2 separate regions of the Homo sapiens genome follow, and region 2 is linked to region 1. The links come from fine-mapping of genetic effects on gene expression. Tissue or cell type: whole blood. Region 1 holds a variant in brackets; the other region holds the start of a gene. All regions are shown on one strand. Distances are from middle to middle.

Evidence for each region. PIP is the estimated chance that this variant, and not a neighbour inherited with it, causes the effect.
Region 2: TUFM starts here. The variant in region 1 is fine-mapped to the expression of TUFM in whole blood (TOPMed, PIP above 0.99).

The regions. Positions count from the first base shown.
Region 1 is chr16:28,822,659-28,825,411 of GRCh38, forward strand. It overlaps ATXN2L (ataxin 2 like), which reads left to right and starts at 341. Exons shown (of 22, transcript NM_007245.4): 1 at 341-900; 2 at 2,708-2,744. The coding sequence starts at 602. It overlaps LOC124903672 (a long non-coding RNA gene), which reads right to left and starts at 1,384. Exons shown (of 2, transcript XR_007065042.1): 1 at 1,236-1,384. RefSeq lists enhancers at 1-356, 1-77 and a silencer at 398-1,547. The variant C/T (reference allele first, on the strand shown) is at 1,460.
Region 2 is chr16:28,844,976-28,847,598 of GRCh38, forward strand. It overlaps TUFM (Tu translation elongation factor, mitochondrial), which reads right to left and starts at 1,373. Exons shown (of 10, transcript NM_003321.5): 1 at 1,243-1,373; 2 at 937-1,131; 3 at 339-505; 4 at 1-80. The coding sequence starts at 1,294. It also overlaps a transcript of SH2B1 not described here. RefSeq lists an enhancer at 1,235-1,724.

The DNA of each region.
Region 1 (2,753 bases):
GACGGCGTGGGCGGAGAGGCCGGCCCTTCCTCTGGCGCCTTCGGCTCCTCCCCCTGCGCCTCACACGCTCATTGTGAAGCGACAGCGGCCGCCGGCTTCTAAGGCGGTTTGAGACCTTAAGACCCTAAATCCTTGGCGCGCGTGAGCGCCCGCGCCGCTCCTTACCCACTCCCAGGGCTAGGGGTGCGAGGTTCACCGACTTGATTCTCTCCCACTTTCCCGCCGGGAGCTAACCGCGCCGGTGTGCGCGGCACCTCGCGCCACTGCTCGCTCCTGGCCCCCCCCCCCCCCCCCCCCCCCCGGGAGCTCCCACCCGCGCGCTCCTCCCTCTCCGCTCCCCGGCGACGCGCACGCGCGCCAGCCCGGCTCGCGCCCTCTCGCTTTCCTCCAGCCGCGAGACCCCCTCCCCTTCCGCCTCGCGGCGCTTCCTCGCGCCGCGGTCTTCTCTCTCCACCCCCGACACCGCGGGGCTCCCCCCGCCCGCCCACGGCGGGCCCCGGCTGCCCGATCCCCCTCGCTTCCCGCGCTCTCCAGCGGGGCCCCAGCCCCGGCCCCCTCTCTCCCTCCCTTCTCTCTAATTCCCCTTCCGGACGCTGCCATCATGTTGAAGCCTCAGCCGCTACAACAGCCCTCCCAGCCCCAGCAGCCGCCCCCCACGCAACAGGCCGTGGCCCGTCGGCCCCCCGGGGGCACCAGCCCTCCCAACGGCGGCCTCCCGGGGCCGCTGGCCACCTCTGCGGCTCCTCCCGGGCCTCCAGCGGCCGCCTCCCCCTGCCTGGGGCCTGTGGCCGCTGCCGGGAGCGGGCTCCGCCGGGGAGCCGAAGGCATCTTGGCGCCGCAGCCGCCGCCGCCGCAGCAACACCAGGAGAGGCCGGGGGCAGCCGCCATCGGCAGCGCCAGGTGAGAAGGGTGGGCTCCGGGCGAGGGAGCCGCGGCCACCCAGAGGCTGTGGCTCGGTTCCGGTGGGGCGGACCCCGACCCGGCACCGTCAGGGGCACCGGCTGGGTGGGGAGTCCCCGTGAAGCTGGGGGAGGGCCCCCTCAGGTCCGAACAGGTCGGACGGAAAGGGTCCCCGGGCGGCCACCGGAGCACTGAGGGGCCGCGCTCGGCTCTCGGGGCCTAGTCAGGGCTCGCAGCCCCGGCCTTCAGGGGAGGCGGGGCGCATCCCGCCGGCGCCGTCGGAACGGGGAGTTGGGGGGGGGCAAGGAGCTGATCGGGGTCCCCGGTTCCATTACCACGAAGGGTCTCGCGGTCCCCGGCTTCAGCCAATGGGGAGTCTGCTGCGGGAAGGGGTCCCCGGCCGTAGCCAATGGAGGGGGGCGCGCGGCCCACAGTTTGGCCAATGGGGAGGGAGGGACTTGGGAGCGGGTTGCTGCCTCCCCCTTCCCGGTCTGGCCAGTAGGAGGGGAGCGAGGTGGGCGGGGGGACGGAAGGAGGGATGACTGGGAGGACTGCGGGC[C/T]GGGAGCCTCTGGCGCGCGCGCCCCCTTCCCGTACGTGCGCGTGGATGCTCGGTCTCATGACCCGGGCATTCGCGCGCCCCGGGAACACCTAGGGCAGGGACTAGTTCGTGGAGGGGCTCGTCTGGTGGCAGTGCATGAGTAGTGGAGGCCCTGCTCAGTTTTTCCTGTGCGAGTGTGTGTGTGTTAATGGAATTAAGAGTGGCAGCACACGCAGGCGCAGTGGGCTCTGATCGCTGGAGGTGGGGGTTCGGAAAGTCCCGTGGGTTTTAGTGCGCAGGCGCAGACCGGGCGAGGCCTCCCGGTGGATGGCTTTTGCGGCTGCGCTGTCCCCCAGCCCCGCCAGCGGCCCCCTCTTCGCCCTCAACCGCCGGTTACATCAGCCAGCGACGAGCAGGGTTACCTGGCGATTGGTGATCCCCGCAGAGTGGGTAACGGGCTGAATGAGTCATGAGGTCGAGGGGATGGGGTGTGGAGGGGATACCCCTCCTCCCACAGTTTTGAGGCGTCAGGCTGCTGAAAATGATTGTCTTTTCTGTTTGGGAGGTAATGTACCTGAGCTAGGTAGTTCCAAAGCTGCACTCCTGGAGCTTTTGCCCTCACAGCTGGCGTGGCTTTTTGGTTAATACTGTAGCATTGATCTGTTGGTAGCCTGCAGCCCTAGCCCCTTTCTCGTTGGTTCTTAGAGCAATTGACAACCATTGTTGATTGAGATCTTTTTGCTGGCATTTGGAGGAAATGTGTTTGCTGGCTTATTAATGTCTATTTTTTTCTTCCTCTACAAGGTGACAGTTTGAAAATCTTATTTATTGGCCGGGCGCAGTGGCTCACGCCTGTAATGCCAGCACTTTAGGAGGCAAAGGTGGGAGGATCCCTTGAGCCCAAGGAGATCGATACCAGCCTGGGCAACACAGATGGGAAATCCCATCTCTACTAAAAATTAAAAAAAAAAAAAGCCAGGAGTGGTGGTTCGTACCTATAGTCTCAGCCACTCGGGAGGCTGAGGCAGGAAGATCACTTGAGCCTTGGAGGTTGAGGCTACAGTGAACTGAGATCACGCCACTGCACCCCAGCCTGGGCAACAGAGGGAGACCCTGTCTCAAAAAAAATAGAAAAATCTTACTGATTAACAATTTTGTAGTCTAAATCAGCATCATCAGGTGGTATATACTTCTAGGATTTAACATTAATTTCATAGTGGTCTAAGAGGGCTTGAACAGACTTAAGTAATTTCTTGTTTTCTTTTATAGGGGACAGAGCACAGGAAAGGGACCCCCACAGTCACCTGTGAGTGTC
Region 2 (2,623 bases), 22 kb after region 1:
CGGGTCTGGGGCATGGGGCCGTCATTGGCTGCTACCACCAGGATGCAGCCGTCGAGGGGTGCAGTGCCTGTGATCATATTCTGGAGAGGAGAAGGAAAGGAAACAGCCAAGTTCAACGAGCTCTTCAGTTCACATCCATATAGCCAAGTGTAGCAGTTAGAAACTCAGGCCCACCTTTCTCTACCATCTCCTCACCACCCATTCTGCGTGGCCAAGACCACAAACCTGCCATCTCATACCCAAACACTGAATATCTTAATCTCCTCCCCACAAGCCTAACATTTATCCTGACAAGAGGCAGCTTCTGGCCCTGTCTCCAGTGTCCCAGCAACCCTCACCTTAACATAATCTGCATGACCCGGGCAGTCTGTGTGGGCGTAGTGGCGGGCGGCAGTGCTATACTCCACATGAGCCGCATTGATGGTGATACCCCGAGCTCGCTCCTCCGGGGCATTGTCAATCTCCTCGTACTTCTTGAACTTAGCCCCACCTCCCTCAGCTAGAACTAAAGGAGGAAAAGAACACACCTCTCAGCTAAAGTTCCAGTGCTAGAGGCAGAGCTTAGACCACGCCCCTGAACCCTCCCACCTAAATACATAACCTCCTCCAATCTCTAACTCTTCCAGCAGAGAGAACTGTGGGTCAGAAAGAAATGTTAGAGGGCCTTAAGGGTCTGCCCTGTGACTTCTTTAGGGTACAGCCTCTGCTTGCAGAGCATTCCCCACGACTTTGTGATCCCCAAGCCATTGGTGGATCACAAAGTTCTTCCTGTTCAGGAGAAATTTGTCTCTTGCATCTCCCAATCCACCTGTCGCACAAATTCGGGCTCTTGGGGCCACAGTAAACTCCTCCAGCAGACACTCTGCTGGCCTTGCCTCCCTGGCTCCAGGTCCCATCAGTAGATAGGGCGCTGCTGGACGCCCCAACCCCACTCACTCTTCGTGATGGCTGCAGTCAGCGTGGTCTTCCCGTGGTCCACATGGCCGATGGTACCCACATTCACATGTGGCTTGTCGCGCACGTAAGTCTTCTTGGCCTCCACGGCCAGGCCGCGGCACAAGAGAGGCAATGCCGGGGCTTTCAGCAGCCGCAACAGACCCTGCAGCAGGAAGGTCCGGCCGGCGGCGAGACCTGCCGGGACCGAAGCTTGGAGTCAGGCAGGGAAGGGGTCAGACCGAACCCAGCCACCTACCACTCCCCCAAAGTGTTCCTGGGCCGCCATCGCCCTCCCTGACCACTCACCGCTGAAGTGGGGCGTCGCGCGCAGCAGGGTGGCGGCCGCCATTGTGGTCATACTCGCGCCCCGGTAACCGGGGAGCCGGGACCAGGAGCCCGAGCGCACAGAAGAAGAAGGGCGCCTGCGGCTGGAAGGCACTTCCGGCGGAAGTTAGAGCTGGGAGGGCAAGTCCGGGCCCCTCTAGCCGCCAGTGTCTATGGCCGTCTCAGCCGACGTCGGGCGCGCGGCTGAAGACGTCATGGAGGGGGCTGGTGTCTCGAGGGCGGAGTATGATGGAGAGGTTTTCCACCACTCGCGCCTCTCGGGCTGAGGGGCAACGTAGTTCTCTCTGGCGGTCGCAGGGGGCACTGAGGAGCGTCCCCTAAATCACCGGCGCCGCGAAGGCTCATGGGCGTAGTAGTTCTCAGGTCGGCGGGCTGTGGAGGTGATCAGAGTGGGAGTCAGGCGGGCTAGGCCGGACCCGGAGGGAGGGGCTCGGGCTCCGGGAGGCAGCTGCGGCTCCGACTGCTCAGGAACCTCCTCCTGGGCCCGGCAGAGAGAGACCCCGAGTCCCCCGGAGTCCGACTCGCTACGCGGGTCTTGCGAGATATCTGGCCGCCTCTGCCGCAGCTGGAGGTAGGGGACCAGGTCCTGGACGCCTTTCGGGGATGGGGTGAAGTGTGACCTCCCTCTTCGCTGAGACTTTGTTTTCTAATCTGTAAAATGGGAATAGTAGTATCCACTTCATAGGGAGAGCCTGACATCTAGCCCTGAGAGGAGATGAACTGGGTAGGAGTCAGTGTTGGGCCCTGTGAGGTCAGGCAGCTTGCGGGGACCCTGTACTGCTAGACCTCACAGGGCCAGAGCCCACAAGACAGACAGCTTCGCTGCCCACCCCTGTAGTCCCTCAGCAGCCTAAGGAGCAGTTCCGTTGGGCATCGCCCCACCCATCTAATTTTGCAGATGAGGAGCCAAGGATGAGGAGCCAGCTAGGGGAGCCTTTAAGGGGAGCCTGAGTCTCCTTTAATCTGTCGGTGTCCCCAGCACCTAACAGGGTGGAGCATGCAGTGAATGTTGAATGAATGGGTGCAAGGGTAGTCAATGTCCCTTAACTTTCACATCCATCATCTCATGGCAGCTTCCACAGGGCACTCCAAAGTGTTAATTATGGCTGCTTAACCCTGGCTAATGTTTCGGAACTCATCAGATCCTGAGACTCAGTGGACAGTGTTTGTTTCAAATAGATTCCCTAATTCCTCCCCTGGAGGTTATGATTCCGTGGGGTCTATGCACAGACTGGGAAGCTATATAACAAACACTCTTCTAAAACTGAGAAGAGGCTGGGCACGGTGGCTATAGTGCCAGCCTATAGTCCCAGCAGTTTGGGAGGCTGAGGTGGGAGGACGG